Linked DNA regions of Homo sapiens. The protein of the gene in region 2 interacts with the protein of the main gene of each other region in a pairwise test. Each region holds a gene or a part of one and is shown on either strand. Other genes may lie near its edges.

Region 1 (7,027 bases), on a different chromosome or scaffold from region 2:
GGCCTGAGACAATGCCATCCTCCCTGGGCAGGCATCCTCCCTCCCGCCCCAGCCAGCCTTCGGGTGGCAGAGCAACACACCTGACTTCAGGTGGTTGCATGTGTTTCCCCTCTCCCACACTTGTCTTTTTGCCACTCCTCTTCCCCCTTCCCCCTTCCCCTTTCCCCCAGCCCTCATTTGAAACCCTGAGCAGAATTTTCTGGCTTCTCCCCAAGAAGCTGTTCACTCCATTGCCCTGAATTCTGCAGCTGACAAACATCTATTGTCACCTCTGGTCCACTGGCATGCTTCTCTACCCACCCCATTGGGCTGTGGCTTCCTTCAGAGCAGGCTCTGTTTCTCCATCGTCTCTGAGTCCAGCCCAGGATCTGACTCACATGAACTGCCCAGGAAACATGGAGTTTTGGAGCATTGATCTGAGACTCCCAGGTCCAAAGACACTCCTTAGCACAGGGCCAGAAGTCCAGGAGAGTCTGGGGAGGATCCCTGGGGGGTTGAGATGTCTGAGCTGCGATTTCCTGCTTTATTCCTTTTTACCCACTGCTGATTCCCTGTTAGCCAGGCTAAGTCACAGCGCACTGTCAGAGCCTGGAAGAAGGGGAGCAGTGTCTGGCAGAGGATCTAGCCAGACTTGTGGGCCCTTTTGGCCAGGTCACTAACTGGGCTGGGCTTTCTGTAGGTGCTCACCCACCCATCACACAGACCACCCCCCCCACCGCAAGAGATGGAAGAACAAGATCAGCTGGGTTGGGGGCCCAGACCTGGCTCACTGGGGTTGGGCAGGGCAGTCTGGGATGCTGTCCAGATCCATCCTCGCATCATTCCCCAGGGCAGGAGCAGCCCGTAGTTGGCACTGACACCCCACTGTTGCCAGAGAAGTGAACCCTAGAGGCAGGATCAGACAGGCAGAGGGCCGTCATTCATCCATCAGCAGCAGGGGCAGAGAAGGAGGTGCTTTTAAGGGGCCCATTCACTCTGCAGCCTATGGGGAGGAACCCTTTACTGTCTCATGGAAACTCATCACTGCACAAAGAAGCCCCTGAAGGAAGGTGCCTCACTGTCTACCAGTGTGTCCCAGGAACCATATTGCAGAATTCTGGTCATTAGGGCAGCAATGAATTATGTCTCTTATCCAAAGCCATCTTTTATCCTTCCAAATCTCTCCACAAGAGTACACCCTTCAGGTCCGGAGATCAGCTAGATTCTGGAGCCCCAGCTGAGAACAGTTTATAAATTAAGACTGACCAGGAGACAACAATATCAATAACAGGACTATTTCATCTTAGATCTATCCTTTATGGCTTAAAAGCACTTTCACGTACATTAGCTCTTTAATCCTATGAAAGGCAGGGTTTGCTACCCCCATTTTACAGGAGAAGAAACTGTACAATTTAAGCAATATTATTATAAGTTCTGCCTTCCTATTGTCACTGGCCAAGTGAGGGACAAGAAGAGGAAACGAATGGAAAAGGGAGTGAAAGGGAAGGGAGAGAACGACCCAGGAGAAAGAAGCAGAGTGGACATGGAAGACTGATTTTAGCTCCTAGTCTGCCATCAGATTTGTATGTGACCTTGGACCAGCTGCTCCACTCTCTGGGACTCAGTTTCCTCATTCATAAATGGGAAGTCACAAAATTGAAGCCACACAGAAGCCTTCTGTGGTGAACGCTGCTGGTGAACTGAGAGGCACAGCATGCGTATAGAAGGGTGGAGTTGGGGGTTCTTCCTAGACTCTAGCCACACTTTGGGGCCCCCAAAGAATATGGGTTTCCTCTTGGGAATTCCTCTGGAAGTATAAGATAGCGAGGTCATAACATTTTAGATGTGCCTATTTGAGGCCAGTTGTTCCCCCATTTAATTCTCTCTGTGTTCCTCTCAGGTAGGAATTGTTATTTATGTCCTATGGATGAGGAGCAGAGGCTTGGAGAGATTCGGAGAGGAAGGACATCCACTGCATCCCCACCCCTGCCCCTAACACCCACATGAAACAAAATTCCCTGCCTGGGTTTTATAAGTAGGAGGGACTTATAAGAAGCTCAGGGCATGAATCATCTTCTGAGGAACCCTCTTTTAGAATTCTAGTCATTAGGGCAGCACTGAATTATGTCTCTCATCCAAAACCATCTTTTATCCTTCCAAATCTCTCCCTAAGAGTGCCCCCTTCAGGTCCAGAGATCAATCAGATTCTGGAGCCCCAGCTGGGAACAATCTCTAAATTAAGAGTCACCAGCAGCCAACAATATCAATAACAGGACTATTTCATCTTAGATCCATCCTTTATGGCTTAAAAGCACTTTCATATCTATTTTCTGTTTGATCCTATGAGAGATAGGGGTTACTACTCCCATTCTACAGAGGAAGAAACTGAGGCACAGAGGGAGGCTGATTTGCCCAAGTTTGCAGAGCTGGTCAGTGGCAGGGTCAGGGTAGAAACCCAGGTCTGTCTGATGCCAATATCACCGTATTTTCCTCTGCACTTTATCCCTTTCTGGGGACAGAGCACAATGAGGTCAGGGACGCCAAACAGGAACTTCCTAAATTCATAATTTTGCTGAGCTGAGCCCTAGAAATGGAGGGGTCCCAGGGTAGAGAACAACACAGGGGCAGAACAATACAGATACTAGGGACCAACTTGGGGACAGGCATGGGGCGCACATACTAGAGGCACAATGCCTATGAACCCTTTCTTCCAGGGGCTGCCCAAACTGCCCGTGCCCCCGCTGCAGCAGACCCTGGCCACGTACCTGCAGTGCATGCGACACTTGGTGTCTGAGGAGCAGTTCAGGAAGAGCCAGGCCATTGTGCAGCAGTTTGGGGCCCCTGGTGGCCTCGGCGAGACCCTGCAGCAGAAACTCCTGGAGCGGCAGGAGAAGACAGCCAACTGGGTAAGAGGGGCAGACAAGGAACCCATAGAAGAGGGGCGGGAGGCAGACCTGGAGACAGAGGGATCTCGGTGAGAGGCAGGTAGGGGACAAAGACAGGGCAGAAGGAGAGATGAGGGACAGGGATGGGGGATAGGTGTGGGAACAGGCAGGTGGCATGGATTGGAGGACAGGAAGGGACAAGGATGAGAAACAAACAAGATGAGGAATGGGAAATACGGATAGAGAAAGAGGCGGACAAATCGGGGACAGGAATTGGGACAGATGAGGACAGAGATCGCATTAGGAAAGAAGAGAGGGTGAAAGGCAGGAAGAAGACACCTGTAAGGACAGGCAGAGGACAGCGATGTAGCACCAAGCCACCAGGATGGGGACTGGGACAGAAGAAAGGAGACAGGAGGGCACAAAGGTGAAGGACAGGCCTGGTGGACTGGGAAGCTCCTGGCACATACCTGGGGCTTAGCATATATTTGTGGAATGAATGAATTAATGCTCTGGTGAAGTGTCCCGATTTTCTCTCGGGGCTGTCAGGATGGGACTGTTTGGGGGGATGTGACGGCCTTCCCTGCCCTCCCCGGCAGGTGTCTGAGTACTGGCTGAATGACATGTATCTCAACAACCGCCTGGCCCTGCCTGTCAACTCCAGCCCTGCCGTGATCTTTGCTCGGCAGCACTTCCCTGGCACCGATGACCAGCTGAGGTGAGGCCTTGGTGCTCCTAGCTCATAACCTGGGGACCCACCCAAGGCAGGGGCCCTTACCCCAGTGCCAGCAAAGAAAGGCCAAAGCTGGAGCCTCGGCTGAGCTTCCTGGGGTCAAATGCCCCGAGACAGTGGACGTCCAGGCCATCAGGTGGGGAGCAAGGTTAGGTGTGGCTGCACTCGAGTGACAATCACACAATTAGCCTTAGTCTATATTTATCTTGCAGTGGAATGGACACTCATGGAGGTCATGGGTCCAAATATCCCCACAGCCTCCACCTGGCTGAGGCCCTGGGAGGAGGCGTGTGTCCCTGGACCACGCCAGTACTTGTCCCTGGGAAACACTGCCCCAGGCTGTCTGAGAGGGCCTCTGCTTCCTTCCAGAGCCCCCAGCTCTAAACAGAGGCCCCAGAAGGCTGGAAACAATTCCTCCCTGCCAGCAGCCAGAGCCTGTGCCATCTGCTGTAATTTCAGAGCTCACTGAGCCGTTGGAAGGGCCTCTGGCCGCTAATGACAATGGAGGATGGGTGCAGGGAGAAAGGGTTTCCCTTCTGGAGTCACTCAGAGTCTGGTCTTAAGACCTGAGTGGGGCAAATGGTGGGGACGGTTTAGAGGGAGGGCAGACCAAAGTGGCCCGAGGACAAGAGGCAGGGCCCACCTCTCCTCTGGGCAGGGCTTAGCCATGCTAGGAAGACCTCCCCACCCCACCCTACCAGCTGGCCAGCCTTCCCTCCCACTGTAGCTGGGGTCTCCCCAGGGAAGAAGGAAGGTGTGGACAGATGAATGACTTCTGAAAACAGTTCTCACAATTGCATCTGAGGGGGTATTTTCCTCCTGGTGCAATTAAGCCAGGCCCAGAATCCTGGTATGACAGTTCCCGCTGCTCGTTTCTCCAGTGCCTTTCCCCAAGCACTCGATTTCCTTTTCATTAGTACCGGGGGGTGGGAGGAAAGGGACCAAATTACTGGCTTTTCCCAGGAGAAAATTTTCCACAAGGCCAGGGGTCCTGCCCTGTCCAGACCCAGGGCTGGCTTTTCCAAGGAAGAACTCCACCCTTCACCCTCCACCCCTTCTGGCCTGCTCTGTGGCCTCTCCTAGCTTCCGTCTCCCTCTCTGCTCCCTCTCCTCTTCAAGATGATTCCAGTTTCCTCTCCCTTCCCCAAGAGCTACTCGACCCCCAGTTCTCACCAAAGGACCATTTTGAATCCAAGGCTTGTGGTGGGCTCTCGGCATGGGGCTGGGGGGCAAGAACCACATCTGATTAGTGCAGGAACCACATCTGATTAGTGCACACGGGGGCGGCATACAATGGGCGATCACAGAGTTTGGCAGTGGGGATGAGGGAGGGAGGAGGGAGGGAGAAGGGAGGGAAGAGGAAGGAGATGGAAGGAAGAGGGAAGGAGGGAGGGGAGGCAGAAGGGAGGGAGGGAGGGAGGAAGCCAGGCCCTGGGAGGAAGGGCTCAGGCCTCCCTTCTCCCTGCAGGTTTGCAGCCAGCCTCATCTCTGGTGTACTCAGCTACAAGGCCCTGCTGGACAGGTAGGACTGGGAGGGTGGTGCCCTGTTCCAGCACAGTCTGCCTATGCGTCTATCTCCCTTGCAGGGACCTTGTCTTTTTCCAGCTCTGTATTCCCATTCCTGGCTCCTGGCACAGAGCAGATGTCCCTGCCCCAACCCACTCCCCCACCATCAGGATGACCTTTAGCCTGGCTGGCCTGTCTGTTAACTGTTCCTTTTCCTGTGGCAAGCACCATCCTTCCTTGATCTTTTAAAAATGTCTCCTCCCTCCACACATACGTGCACAGGTGGAGTGAATTCACTTGAAGCTGGAGAACACATAGGAAGGCGGGGAAGGAAGAGTTGTTAGAGTAAGGTGATGGGAGTTCTGCTTTGCCACTTGGAGGAATGGTGTCTCCAGCGGGAGACTGTATCCTCAATCCCACCAAGCTCAGTGGACATGAGGCTGTTCTGACAGATGGAGAGGGCTGCTCAAGCACCGCAGGCTCTCTTTGATTTTAGGAAGAAAGTCCCTCTCCTGGCCAAGCTTAGGAGAGCAGGAGGGTGTCTGAGAGCAGCAGGGAGAGTAAGCGGGTCTGGAGGACCCAAGTCTCTCAAGGTAGAGACTATAAGGGCATTAGAAGCTGGAAGGAGAGAGAGAGGCCCAAAGAAGCATCCCTTGCACAGATGAGGAAGCTGCAGCTCAGAGAGGTTAAGTAACTCATCCATGGTTACACAGCCAGGTGGTGGCAGAGCAAGGAGGGGGCAAGGGGCAAACTTCACTCTTTGTTCAACTTGACTCAATTCAGTCTTTACCCAGCCTTGGGACAGAGGCTCAGACCCACAGCCCCTTCCAGGGTAGGGCTGTTCCCTCTGGAGAGGGGCAGGCAGAGCTCCCAGACTGTCAGGGTGGAGCAGTTCAGGCTGTCCAGGGCATTCTGCACCACACGCTCCTGTGTGCTCTGCTCACTCCTCTCTAAATGCCATGGGTCACTAGGCCCTGGGCTGTTGTCTCCTCATGGTGTGTCTTTGGTCTCTCCCTTCTTCGTGGACAGCATTCTATTTCCTCCCAGAACTCGCCCCTCCAGCTCACCGTCCTGTCTGTTTTCAAACACCATTGTCTTGCTGGGCCTGGGGACTTGGTGCCCATTCATCACTGACTGCCCCCACGAGACCACTTTCCTTCTGATCCCAGACTTTCACATGTGTGTGCACACTCACACAGACACGAATACCCATGCATATCCACGTGGAGGTTCCCATGTCCAATGATTGAAAAGGACTTAAGACTGGAACATTTTCCTGAGTGCCTGTTTTGAACCTTTAATTAATTAATTAATTAATTTACTTATTCACTTTGCAATGTAGTTATGCTGGGAAGAGGAAGAGAAATAAGGCCTCATCCTCCCCTCAAAATGTCCTTAGACTATTGGGCAAGACAGTCACTTAAACAGACACAAAATACAGCTGTGTCCCTTCCCCTGAGTCCCACACTCGCTCATCCAAGCCTCAGCCATCCCCACCGGGGTGTCTCTCAGTCATTACAAATGAGCCAGGAGAGCTTCGCCTCTCCCTCCCCATTCCCCAACTCCTCCCATACCTTGTCGAGCCATGTCCGTAAGTGCACCAGCACATGCCCTGTTGGTGAGTCTGGGAACCTAGAAGTCACCTGTGCTTGTTCTGCTTTCTCCCTTGCACCTTCATGTAACCCATGGTGCTCAGATGTGGTCATTCTCCCTCCCCACTGTGTCCCCAAGCTCCCTCCTCCTTCCCTGCTGCCCTCACAAGACATCACGTTCCTTCTCTGCCACAACCTCCTTCCTTGTTCTTCCTGTGACACCTTTCAGTCCATTCTCCCCATATAAGCAGGGTCAGTAAAACAACAAAATGGAAACCCAGTCATGCCCCTGCGTGCTAAAGCCTCCCAAGGGCTTTCACTGCACCAAGAAT
Region 2 (7,027 bases):
AATTCCTTTTAAATGTTAGTGACAGTAAGGTTTTTCTCTCTGAATTACAGAGCTTGCTGTGATTGCTTTTTTGTTGTTTTATTGTTGTTTGCTGCCACTGTCTTTAAGTCTAGAGCTAAAATTATTGTTTGATTAAGGTAGCCATATTTGGTTAGATTTTTGCTAGATTCCTACTTTGGGTGAATTTGATCTGTTTTTTTCTTGTAATGATTTTATGTTTGAGGTCTCTCAGATACCTTTGGAACCAGGCAGGGTTTGCTACTTAAGAGAACTGGTGGCATCAAACTGGAGACCTAGGAAAGATATATTTGTACTTTAGGTAAAATAGACTTGATAGTCTACATGTAGTAAAGGTTTTGTTGAATGGTCCAGATAATATCTGTTTCATTTAGCATCAGAATGCAGTAAATCAGAATCTTGCAAATGGTAAAATTGTGCTTAATTTAAAAAAATAATGTTTTGTTTTCTAATGTTGTTTTCCATGTCAATTTAAAATTCTTCTAATATATGGTAATTCAGGAAAGTTTCTTTGCTCTTGTTGATAATGGTCCCAAAAGATATCTTCCATATAGAAAATACACTGACCATTCTCTTTCGTCCCCCCTCCACATAAAAATGCATGTTAAAATTTACAATTATACAGACTTTTAAAAATATAATTTAAGAAGCGAAGAGCATCAGCAAACTATTGTAAGTCGTCCTCTGTGCATAGGGTTGGAAAATTTTTTTAAATCCATACCTATTTTGTCACTATCTTTAAAGCGTTTGATCATGGCTATGAATGGTTTGGAAATTTGCAGACAAGATAAACCTTACTGAACCAAGCTCTAACCCTGGAGACATCGAGCTGCCATTCAGCTTTTTCTTTTGTTCCTTTCATGAACTCTTCTCTGTAACCCACTTCTTGCTGGGAATGGATTTGCAGCTTCCCTTTCAGTCATATTTTCCCTAACGTTGAAATGTTTCCCATTAATAAAACAGGTGTAAGTATTTTTGCTGAACCATTTCAAAGACATTGCAGACATTGGGACTGTTGTACCTAAATATTTGAGCTTACTTCTCAAGAGATAAAAATACTGTTCTGTGAAACCACAATACTATTATCACATTTTACAAAATTAATAATTCCCTGGTGTCTTTAACACTCTGCCTGAATTGTCTGCAAAAATGTCTTTTATAACTGGTTATTCAGCCAGAGACCAATCGAAGACCCCGAGTTAAATGCGTTTGTAACGTGTATTTAAGGCTTAAGGCTTAGCCATTTGCTCACTTTATGATCTAAGGCAGTTTACTTTCATATGTCATGTCAGTTTTATATGGAGTGGACAAAATGGGAATAGACACTACCTATTTTGTGGAGCTGCTGTGAGAATTAAATGAGACAGCCTACGTAAAGCTTATAGTACAGGGCTAGGCATAAAACAGGTGCCCTATGTGGCTCTTTGCAGGGCACTGAGATAGATTTCTTTCAGGCTGAGCTTCATTTTCAGATAACCCTGTGAAGAAGGTATTACCCCCATTTAACTGATGAGAAAGCCAAGGTCAAGTTAGTTGCCCGAGACAGCAAACATTTTTTTAAAGCACTTTATTCATTTAGTCTTCTTAAAAATCCTGCGAGGTAGTTGGTATTATTATCCCTATTATAATAGGGAGAAGTGAGGCACAGAGAGGTGAAGTCCTTTCCTCAAGGTCATCCTGTGAGTAACTGAAGGAGCTGGGAATGGAGCACTCCAGTAGCCTGGTTCAGGAAGGTCTCTGTGCTCTTAACTAACCACTATGAACCATTGGGGTGGTCCAGCCTCAGTCGTTCTGACTCAGAGCTCGCAGCCTTTCTGCCAATCATGCTTGTTCATTATTCTTCTGAACTGGTGACAATCTGTCATTGCCATCATTTTTCTCACTTCACTTATCTTCCCAGAAAATGCTGTGAAGCATGAGGGGCATACTGAATTAAAATGGATTTAAATAAATTTGGGCTTGAGAATTCTGTGATACACCTCAAAGATAATGGGAGTAGTGCAAATTCAGAGTTGGTTATTATTGGAATGTTAGATCTATGTTAACTGAAATAACAGTTGTGGAAATTAAACCGATACAGTGAGTATTGATCCATTTTCTTTGTGTTTGCCTTAAAAAGGGAGGTATGTTTCTACCAGGGGGTATGGTTCTACTATACATGAGTAGAACCCTTAAATGTTAAAAATATGGAGTTGACTGTGCAGAATTAGAATCTTGATTTATTCCTCAGAAAATCCCCACACTACTGGAGACCCAGGCCTGGAGGATGATAGCTTGAGGCCAGGAAAACCAGCCTGGGCAACACAGTGAGACCCTGTCTCTACCAAAAAAATAAAAAATAAAAATTAGCCGCGTGTGGTAGCGCACACCTGTAGTCCCAGCTACTCAGGAGGCTGAGGGGAGAGGATGGCTTCAGGCCAGGAGGTCGAGGCTGCAATGAGCTGTGATCGTACCACTGCACTCTAGCCTGGGCGACAGAGTGACACCCTGTCTCCAGGAAAAAAAAATCTTAAAAGTAAGAAAAAACAAAAAAAACCTGAAAAGACCTTAAGGAGCTTGTAAGCTAGGACCTGTCATAGTATAAACTTAAGTGCCTAGTGCAAGGCTGAACAGCTAGTGAGGTGGTAGACCTGGAGTGGACTAAGCTCCATCAGCTGGTTGTGGTCTGGGTTTGTTTCCATGGGAATATTAGCAAATGCAACCTCCTTTCTAACTAAAGCTGGTCCCCTCTGCTTTCCTGTCCTTTTATCCAGTACAATATATACAAAGTGGATCAGTAGCAATACCCAAAACTGTTTTGCCTTAGCAATTTGCTTACTCTTGCTTTTATTCTGAAATTCTCTTCTTTCTTCCTTCACTTCTCCAGTAGGTGACATTCTGCTCATGCCCCCAGCCATCTCTGAGCCATTGCGTTTGGGTGGTCCTTTTTGACTTTCCCACCATAACCCCCTCCTCCCAGTCAAAATCAAGTCAAAGTCAAAATGCAAGTCAAAATCAATGTCTGTGTGTATTATTTTTTTCCCTACATTACATGGCAATTATTATTTCAAGTTGGGCTTATACCCAGCTAGATTCTGCATCCGAATTTGAGTTTTTTGGATTCAAGGTTACTTCTCAAATGCCTAGTTTTCTAGTTGTTGGCCCAACACCATTGGGCACATTGTGGTTGCTTAATGTCTATTGAATAAAATAATGGATTTAATTATTTTAAAGTGCTGTTTCATCCCTACTGACTAATGCAATAATTACAATTGTTGTATTTGGTTAACTTAGGGTATATATATATATAAGCCTCCTGAGAAACTCAACCATGTTCACATTGAGCCTCTGGTATTTTGTGGAAATTCCATGCAGAACTATCTGGTGGTAGTGATCTGTCATTGGTAACTCAAAACCCATTTTTATTCCATTCATTGTTGCGAGAACTGACAAGTAAAAAATCTTGACCACAATAAGACAGGGCCTGTTTCTATGCCTCTGTAGGAGAATCTCTGCAGAAATCACAGTATTAACAATTTTCAATAGCTGCAGGGTTCTGCTGGAGTCTTAACACTTGAGGGTGGATACAGCTGTGCTGATGAACTCCAATATTGGCATCATTCTTGTATTGCCGGCTGAACACAAATACAGTCTAACAGCAAAATTTTCAGAAATTGAACAAGTGATAATAGAGGCAGACCAGAAAGTTTTGGTGTATGTGATTATTTGTTTGGGCTTGTTTTTACTAAGGTAAATTAGGCCGAGTTTTTTAAAAAGACCCCGTCATCTCAATAAACTTGATAACTTATTCTTAGAAATATTTAAAAATTACTATTTAAATCTAGAACATTGTGATGGTGCTTTTAAGGCATTTTCTAGGGCTCTTAGTGACTTTGAAGTAGAAGAAATATTTTGTATTGATGCTCCAGTGCCCCGTGGAACAAAATATATTTTTTATATGCTTTCCCTGGATAGACATGAAGGATTGTTACATCTTGACATATGTCCCATGTCATGGAAAGAAAGTCAGGCCAGGATCATGGGAGTTTGCTAAATTAAGTAACAATTGTTTCATAACTACCCATTTCCCTTTCTCATGTAACCTTTATCAACATTATGTTCACATGTGGCATATTGCACACGTATTATCAAATTGTGCTTATGTTCTTCCTGCTACTCTCAAAGGGTAGTTGAATATTTATTTAAAAACAAACTTTCTGTGTTTACTTGCACTTAGAGGGTAAAGGTAAAGAAACAGATTTTGACTTCACCCTTAGCATTTAACACTTGTGATTGAAGAGATTAGAACAAATATTGGGAGCTTCTAAAATGTATGGTTTTGGCTCCTCTGTGTCCTGAAATAACGATTTTTCAGATCTGGTTGTTTTTATTCTTTGATATATTTCCTGTGGTCCATTTATAAATGCTTAAAACTTAATTATCAGTTAAGTTTTTAATTGACTTTCATTTGTTCATCTGGTAATGACATCTTTGTCTTTTCATTTTCATTATTTATTCCTCTTGTTTCTTTTTCTTACTGCTTTGCTTTGGCTCTGGCCTCCAGTACTGACTTTTCAGATACGCACTGTTTATTTTGTATTTGCATCCATACTAACTGAGAATGCACAGAGAAGCTTGGCCCATCTGTCTTTCTAGGTGTGGGAATAGGTTTGTTTGTTTGTTTGTTTGTTTTTGAAACAGACTCTTGATCTGTTGTCCAGGCTGGAGTATTCCAAGTGATCCTTCTGCCTTGGCCTCCTGAGTAGCTGGGATTGTAGGTGTGCGCCACCACACCTGGCTAATTTTTAAATTTTTAGTAGAGGTGAGGTCTTCTTAACGTTGCCCAGGATGGCCTTCAGCTCCTAGCCTTAAGCAGTCCTCCTGTCTCGACCTTCCAGAGTGCTGGGATTATAGGCATGAGCCACCTGCACCTGGCATGGGAATAGCTTTATCTTTTATTTTTATTACTTTTTTTTTAGAGATGGGGTCTTGCTCTGTTGCCCAGGCTGGAGTGCAGGGGTGCAATCATGGCTTACTGGAGCCTTGAACTCCTGGGCTCAAGCAGTGCTCCCATCTCAGCCTCCCAAGTAGCTGCGACCACAGGTGTACACCACCATGCCCTTTGAGAATAATTTATTAACCCTCATACCCATGGCCTGGCAGAACACTGAGCACATAGTAGGCTTTCTGTAAACAGTTATCAATTGGTTGAAGTAACTATTCATTAATTGAAAAAATAATTGTACCGTGTATAAAAATTTAACAATTTTTCACAATTTAACAATTATCTTTTTTGGATACCTATATCCAAAAAAGACTTTGAGTTGCTTTTTCAAAACTACTAAAGGAGAGGCTGCCATGATGGTAGTGGAAGAATCATGGACTTTGGAGTGAGACCGTACCTCTTCCCCTGCCACTAAGGGACCCTGCTAAGTATCCCAAGCCACCAGCCCTGGATTAATGTAAATGAGGTTCATTCTGCTGTATACCTAATAGGCTGTTAAAAAGTAGAAATGGACCAGGCATGGTGGTTCATGCCTGTAATCCCATCACTTTGGGAGTCCGAGGTGGGCCGACCACCTGAGGTCAGGAGTTCGAGACCAGCCCAACCAAGATGGAGAAACCCCATCTCTACTAAATATACAAAATTAGTTGAGCATGCTAGCACATGCCTGTAATCCCAGCTACTCGGGAGGCTGGGGCAGGAGAATCGCTTGAACCTGGGAGGCGGAGGTTATGCCAAGCAGAGATCGTGCTAAGCAGAGATTGCACCATTGCACTCCAGCCTGGTCAACAAGAGCAGAACTCCATCTCAAAGAAAAAAAAAAAAAAGCATAAATGAGGTAGCCTTGGTAAAACATTTTAGCACAGCACCTGAGAAATTGAGATTCAGTAGCATCCATCTACCCCAGGTCTGTCCCCCATCATGTAATAAGGTGTTCTTTCTTTTCAGAATTTACAAGGCAGAGGAGATCCATGAACTTTACAAGGCAGGAAACAAGATTTTCACTTTGTACCTTAGAGAGCTGAAATGACTTGCTCAAGGCTCCTCAGGGAGCTTGTGGGAGGATAATTAGGATTTAGAAGTCATGTTCTAAGACTGACTGTTTCTTTTGGCTTTCTAATGGTGTCCTGGTAGTTTTTGTACTGTGATAATCAATAATGCCCAGCTGACCATTGGCCCCTTTACTCAGTGATCCCAGTTGGCTGTGCTTTTTGAGATTCTGAGTTTTATAGCTTGTCTGTTCTCTTAGGGTAAGAGTACCTACCTGTAATAGCATCCTTGGCTCCCCTGCCATCCCTACGCCATTCCTGATATGTGGTCTAGATACCTTATTACCAGCAGCATTCAAATTCTCTCTAAAACAAAAGTCAGTAGGCTTGGTGTGGATGGGTGGGACTGACCATCCTCTTAGGAGTCACTTGGCTTATGACATGTTTTGTCTACTTGAATGCCATGTTTGGCATTTCATTTTATTTTTCCAGCCAAGGAATAAAGTGGACGATGGAGTGGGAATACAGACATAGTGCTAGACTAGAGGTTTAATTTATCAACATCCCAGTAATTTTACTCATTTTTATAGATCTTTTAAAGCAGCGTAAGTGTGACTATAGTCTTAATATAGTTATTACATTTCTCCCTTTTGCTTAAAGGTTAAGTCAAGTTTGATTTTTTTCTCAGGCTCAGACTCGCAAAGCAAATCTGCCTTGCTAGAATGATGTGCCTGGGCTCAACAGCTCACCTCTGGCCCTGAAGGCCTAATAATTGGTTGCCTTCTCATTGATCTGTGTGTGAGCACACTTCAGAACAGTACTCTGCTGTTTGTTAAAATAAAAAACAACAACAAAAAACCTTTGAAGACCTTACCGTCCATTCTAAGATGTCTTTTGTACTAAGGAAAATTGGGGATACTAGATTATAGGTGTTGATTTGGAGTGTGATATACTGTGAATCGGAATAACTTGAATTTAGAATGTACTTAGGCCCCAGTTGCAAAATTATGTGTAAATTATTGTATTGGATAAAATA
Region 3 (7,027 bases), on a different chromosome or scaffold from region 2:
CAAGAACTGGCACATTGTAGGTGCTCAGTTAATGTTACTTCTTTTTTCTCTACCAGAAGAAAGGGAAGTGTTACACATTTATTTTGGTTTTGGTGACTGATTTAAAACTTATGTGGGTTTTAATTTAGTGGAATAGGATCTTGCAGGAACAAATTTCATTTCACTTTTTATCTTCCAATTTAATACTCTCACACAAAAACAGTTTTTCACTTTAGTATTTGTTAAGCAGATGAATTATTTGTGGGTAAAGAAATGAGCATTGCTTAAATCTCTTATTAGTATGCAAACTGCCCACTGTTAAAACCTTTCTTAGAGGATTATACAATTAGATAAACGCCTTTTTAGAGGTATTTTAGGTAAGATAATCTTACTTTTTAATGAATTAAATCATCCACTCATTTAGTTGGTCATTTAAACATTTGTTTGTCATGTTTGGGTAAGGAATTGTGCTGGAGTCTGTGTGAGACTTCAGGATATTTTTGGTGTTCAGTGAGAGGCAGTGTAGAATACTGGTTAAGAGCCAAAGTTGGCTGGGCGTGGTGGCTCACGCCTGTAATCCCAGGGTTTAGGGAGGCCGAGGCGGGCGGATCACCTGAGGTTCGGAGTTCAAGACCAACCTGACCAACATGGAGAAACCTTGTCTCTATTAAAAATACAAAATTAGCCATGCGTGGTGGCACATGCCTATAATCCCAGCTCCTCAGGAGGCTGAGGCAGGAGAATTGCTTGAACCCGGGAGGTGGAGGTTGCAGTGAGCCGAGATTGCACTCCAGCCTGGGCAACAAGAGCAAAACTCTCTTAAAAAAAAAAAAAATCCAAAGCTGTGGTGACAAACTGAAAATGTAGCTTCTGCAGCTTACTGTTATCATGGTCAAAGTACATTTTTCTCATTTGTAAAGTTGGGTTAATAGTGACACCTTTTACAGTTATTGTGAATATTAACTAGGCTAATGTTTATAAAGCAGTTTTCATAGACCTAGGCACATAGGCTGCCAAGCAAATTGTACCTTCTGAAGGCCCTGGCATATAGTGAATACTGAAAGGGAAGCTGCTGTTACTTTGTTTTCTTTTGAAATAGGTGATTATTTGTTTTATTGAAATGAAAGAAATTAAAGGCTCTTTGGATAAAGAAGAACTGATGATCAAGGGATTAGGGTACTAGTTCTAGCTCAGTGACCTTGAGCTAGTAGGTATTTAACTGGTCTCAGTTTTGTTGCTTTTAAGATAAAGTAGCTAGACTAGATGACCTCTAAGATTTCTTCAGACTCAAGTGTTCTGGTTTTAAATTGTGATTTTTCAATATAATCAACTTGAGCATCTGTCTACTAGGTACGTAGCATTGTGTTAGGTTATATGGGTTAAAATAACATAAAAAAGATAGCATATGTTTTCCAGAAGGTAAATAACTAGTTGGGAAGTTGTAGGCACGTGAAACACTGGACGATTCAAATAAGTACTGAATTAAGTAATGTAGCTTGTAAGTGGTGTCAGATTCCTGTCATTTAGAGTGGTTAGAAGAAAGGCTTCCGTAGAGGGACAGAGACCATATGTTGGTCTACTGGTCCAGCAGACTAGCCATGACCAGCTTCCATTTTACCTACTAGTACATCCTCAGTAAGTCATCTCAGCTCTTTGATAGAATGAGATCACAATATCCCCTTCTGCCACAGTATCACAGGGGCTATTTCAGAACCATCTGACTCAGAGCTTTGAACTGGATTGCCTAGATTATCTAGGGCTTTCATCTCTTTCTTTCTTCCTTTTTTCTCTATTTCAAAACTTCTGCTATTGCCTTTTTTTCTCATTTTCGTCTCTCTTTTTATGGTAACGTTTTTTATTTCACATTCATTTTATTATTTCTGATGATTTCTGTTTGAATATTAAATCAAACTATTGCTATTATCTACTGTCCTCACAGATTTCATAAAATCTACTTTTTGAAGCTTTTGGTTTTTTGCTTTAGTTTGAGATGGAGTTGCGCTCTTGTTGCCCAGGCTGAAGTGCAATGACGTGATCTCGGCTTACTGCAACCTCAGCCTCCTGCGTTCAAGCGATTCTCCTGCATCAGCCTCCCGAGTAGCTGGGATTACAGGTGCCTGCCACCACACGTGGCTAATTTTTTGTATTTCTAGTAGAGATGGGGTTTCACCATGTTGGCCAGGCTGGTCTGGAACGCCTGACCTCAGGTGATCCACCCGCCTCGGCCTCCCAAACTGCTGGGGTTACAGGCATGAGCCACCATGCTCGGCCATGAAGCTGTTCTTTAGTGAAAAGAATTTTGCCATTTTCTATTACTTTTTGCCCTATTATGTATATATTATATGTGTGTGTGTATATATATGTATTTGTACACATATAAGGTAATTCATTTGCTTTCAGAAAGCAGATACAAAATGACTTTGAAAGTTGTTTTTCTTCCCATAGGTTACCTGCAACTCTTTTCCTTCAAAGCACTTCTTTATGCAGTCACTAGGATTTGATGCCTTTTAAAAAATTCAGCAAAAATGTTATAGGTCATATAATAATAATCTAGATTTTAAAATAATGTATATTTTAAAATACTATATATTAAGCTTAGTAACTACTATGCTTAGTATAGTGACCACTGTTAAGCCCAGTAACCACTGAGCATTACTATTAAGCTTAGTAATCACTGAGTCAATAGATATAAAATTAAAATGTGATTAATTGGTGAGACTTCATGGATTGTGCTCAAAGCCAGAGTTGAAAATTACTGACCAAAAAATTGTTCTGGTTTTGAGAAATGTCATTTTCCTGATTCGGCTTGTTTTATTTTGTTCATTATTTTTATTTAATTTGGGAGGATCTCAAAAGTATTTATTAAGAGTGGACTGTGGAGTTGGTGGATATAAGAGTATATAGGTTAAAAGTGAGCAATGGTGTTAGGATTCAAATCTCAATTCTGCTCACTAGCTTGCAATCCTGGGCACGTTATTGAACTCTGCATCCCAATTTTCCAAACTAAAATGGGGGTATAATAACACCTACTTTATGAGGCTGTTGTGAGGATTAAGTGAGATAATACATGTGAAGTTCTGTGTCTGGCACTTAGTAAACAACAATAAGTGTTGGCTATTAATATTGTGGTAAAAAGTAGTACCTCAAATTGATAAACAATTGTAGTATGCATATATTAGAGTGGCTAAAATAATTAGTATTGGTTGTCTCTGGGGATTGAAGAGAAGATGGGCAGAGGACTTCTTATTATAAGCCCTTTTGCCCTATTTGATGTTTTTAAAGACGTGTGCTTTGCTACAAGGGAGTGTTTATTGAGAATCCAAGTATGGTCTTGACCCTTTGCTAGGCTCCGAAGTAATAACATTTACAAAATAACACATTGTAAAATGATGTAAGATTAACTGTAGACCTTCAGATACCTCAGGATAGATGAGGGAGAGTGTGTCTGTGTGTATTTTTTAAAATTAGAAATGATTCGTGGTCCTCCTTTCCTCCTAGAGAGGGTTGTAAGGGTATGTTAAGGTAGTCAGCATTGAACAGTTAAGGTGTCTTAAAATGCAGTGTGCTGGCCGGGCTTGGTGGCTTACGCCTGTAATTGCGGCACTTTGGGAGGCTGAGGCTGGCAGATCTCCTGAGGTCGGGAGTTCGAGACCAGCCTGACCAACATGGAGAAACCCCGTCTCTACTAAAAATAAAAAATTAGCCGGGCATGGGGGTGCATGCCTGTAATCCCAGCTACTCGGGAGGCTGAGGCAGGAGAATCGCTTGAACCTGGGAGGCAGAGGTTGTGAGCTAAGATCGTGCCATCCTGCCTGGGCAATGAGCAAAACTCCATCTCAAAAAAAAAAAAAAAAAAAAATGCAGTTTGCTTTTAACAGAACCCACAACAATTACATAATCCGAAAAGATGTTTCACTATTAAGGTTATGTAAAATTCTCTTTCAGCGCATTATCTGATTATAGTATTATTTTATGAATAGATTTTATTACAGATGGATAATTTAAGAGTAAAATCAAATATTTTAATTTTGGAATTTGAAAAATAATGATTCAAGACAATATTATATTTATAAAATACATAAAATTTGACCCAGTGGAATAATTATTTAGACCTAGGATAAAATATCTTCTTTTAAAATTTTCTTAAAGTGGAGCCACAGGCAGCTAATTTGAAAGTACAGTGAAACTTCAGCCTTCTGTGAATGAGATACTGTGAACTTAGTATCCTGAGTTACAGAGAATTAAACAATACTTTTTTGTTTTTGTTTCAATTCCTGTTGCAAATTTGCCAAATTATTTTCTAGGGTTAATACATACTAAACATAATAGAATCTTTCTTTGATAAATTAGAACATTATAGTGTCCTAGGATCATCTTTCTGATTATCGGTGATACTGTTAGGGATATGAAGATTATAACATTAACAGTACCTGAGACATTTTTTGTGTATATATGTCAGATGGCTTGCATTTTTATCAGTTGTTGTATTCTAGAAAAAAATGAAGTGAAAAATTACTTCTGATTGAGATGTTAGTATACCCTACCCTTGTTTAGTTTTTAAGAATAATTTTTCAATTATGAATACTCATTAATTTTTGAAGGATTTAATGAGGTATGAACAAAACTGGTGGTTACCAAAACTATCCCTATTCTCATGAAAAAAAAAAAAGTTCTTTGAGTTGAAGACAGAAGTTTCTTGTTGTGTAAGGATCCTCTTGTTGCAGATGTCAACAATCTTGTCTGAAACATAGTTGGGCAAAAAGGGGAATTTACTGTCTCAGATAACCTAAACTCAGGATGCAAGGATGCAGTTGAAATCAAACACAACTGGAACCTGAGCTGAGAATGCCACCAAAACTCTCTTATCTCTCCTCCTCTCTCCCTTTCAGCTTCATTTTCTCCAAATGCAGACCAGCTTCTTTCTTCCATGTAGCCGGGACATAGATGCCAGCAAATTATAAGTATGAGCTAGGCACTATCCTAAACAATTTTGCATGTATATTCATTCATTTAATCCTCACAGCTTTTTATACCTATTTTACAAATGAGGAAACAGAGGTATAGAGAGGTTAAGTAGTAATCCAGGTTGCCTGTTTTTATAGCACAATACAGTATGATAGAGATGATAGAGTTGGATTTGCTAGGCACTAGCTAGCTGTGGTTACAAATGGTCTCATTTGTGTTTTGTTTTTGAATTTTTTGAACAGACTTAATTTTTTAAGAGCAGTTTTATATTGGTAGCAAAATTGAGCAGAAAGTACGAAGAGTTCCCATATGCTCCCTGCCTGTACACATGCATAACCTCCCTCAGTATGGACATTCTACACTAGCGTGGTACACTTGTTATGGTAGATGAACCTACATTGATGCATCATTATCACCCAAAGGCCATAGTTTACATTAGGGCTCACTCTTCGTGTTGTGTATTCTATGGTTCTTAACACTTGTTTTTTTTTTTTTTTTTTGAGACGGAGTCTAGCTTTGTCGCCAGGCTGGAGTGCAGTGATACAATCTCAGCTCACTACAACCTCTGCCTCCCAGGTTCAAGCAGTTCTTCTGCCTCAGCCTCCTGAGTAGCTGGGATTACAAGCACGTGCCACCATGCCCAGCTAACTTTTGTATTTTTTTTTTTTTTTTTAGTAGAGACAGGGTTTCACTATGTTACCCAGGATGGTCTCAATCTCCTGACCTCGTGATCCACCCGCCTCGGCCTCCCAAAGTGCTGGGATTACAGGCGTGAGCCACCGCGCCCGGCCTTAACGCTTGTTTTTGTTTCTTTGGGAGAGGGATGGAGTTTTGCTCTTGTTGCCCAGGCTGGAGTGCAATGGCGTGATTCTTGGCTCACTGCAACTTCGCCTCCTGGGTTCAAGCAATTCTCCTGCCTCAGCCTCCCTCCCGAGTACCTCTACAAGCACGTGCCACCACGCCCTGCTCATTTTTTGTATTTTTAGTAGAGACGGGATTTCACCATGTTGGCCAGGCTGGTCTTGAACTCCTGACCTCAGGTGATCTGTCTGCCTCGACGTCTCAAAGTACTGGGCTTACAGGTGTCAGCCACTGCACCCGGCGAGGTTCTTAACACTTGTAAGAGTAATGTGTGTCCGCCATTATGTTGTCATGTAGAATAGTTCCATGGCCTTAAAAATCTTTGTTCTGCCTGTTCATATGTCCTTCCCACCAATCCCTGATTTTTTTTACTGTCTCTTTAGTTTTGTTTTTTCCAGAGTATCTTATAGTTGGAATCATGCAGTATGTTGCCTTTTGGATTGGCTTCTTTGACTTAGTAATATTCATTTAAAGTTCCTCCATGTCTTTTCATGGCTTCATAGCTCGTTTCTTTTTAGTGCTGAATAATATTTTATTTTCTGGGTGTATCAAATCCATTCACCCACTGAAGGACGTCTTATTGCTTCCAAGTTTTGTTCATTTACTTTTCACAGTAGTTCTGCAAAGTGTATATGTTGAGCTGTTTACAGATTAGGAAACAGATTCAAGAGAGGTGAAGTAGTTTACTCAGGTTCACATCATTAGAAAGTTGGCATAGTTTATATTAGAACCTAAACTCTGACTCCCAAGCCCATAATCCTTATATGTACTTTGCTGTATACATGAATAGGTCAAAATACAATTTATTTTTTACTTATTTTTTACAATATAGTAGAAAAACTTTATTAGAGTTAACTATCAGTTCTTCCTTGTTACTAAAGGAACTAGGGGAGGATTCATTTTTAGCAGTTGCTCTAAGGCCACTTCTTTTAGTAACCTTTTTACTTGAAATAATAAAACTACATTTCCATAAAAGTCCTTCTCTTTGAAATTTTCTTTTATTCAGTCTATTCTTTTGCTTAGTATACATTAATAAGGTAAAATATACTTCTGGCTGAGTGCGGTGGCTTGTGCCTGTAAATCCCAGCACTTTGGGAGGCTGAGGTGGGAGGATCGCTTGAGCCTAGCAATTCCAGACCAGCCTGGGAAGCAGTGGGATCCCTGTCTCTACAAAAAAATAAAAGAATTAGCTGGGTGTGGTGATGCATGCCTGTAGTCCCAG

Evidence for each region. Proteins that work in one complex are often made in the same cells at the same time.
Region 1: the proteins of SPRED2 (region 2) and CHAT interact in binary tests that used the Homo sapiens proteins (3 or more experiments, as listed by UniProt).
Region 3: the proteins of SPRED2 (region 2) and ZDHHC17 interact in binary tests that used the Homo sapiens proteins (3 or more experiments, as listed by UniProt).

The regions. Positions count from the first base shown.
Region 1 is NC_000010.11:49,617,032-49,624,058, forward strand, and holds part of CHAT (choline O-acetyltransferase), read left to right. Parts: intron 1-2,693; coding exon 2,694-2,885; intron 2,886-3,463; coding exon 3,464-3,582; intron 3,583-5,065; coding exon 5,066-5,119; intron 5,120-7,027. UniProt on the Homo sapiens protein: Catalyzes the reversible synthesis of acetylcholine (ACh) from acetyl CoA and choline at cholinergic synapses.
Region 2 is NC_000002.12:65,422,575-65,429,601, reverse strand, and holds part of SPRED2 (sprouty-related, EVH1 domain-containing protein 2), read left to right. Parts: intron 1-7,027. UniProt on the Homo sapiens protein: Negatively regulates Ras signaling pathways and downstream activation of MAP kinases. Recruits and translocates NF1 to the cell membrane, thereby enabling NF1-dependent hydrolysis of active GTP-bound Ras to inactive GDP-bound Ras.
Region 3 is NC_000012.12:76,767,110-76,774,136, forward strand, and holds part of ZDHHC17 (palmitoyltransferase ZDHHC17), read left to right. Parts: intron 1-7,027. UniProt on the Homo sapiens protein: Palmitoyltransferase that catalyzes the addition of palmitate onto various protein substrates and is involved in a variety of cellular processes.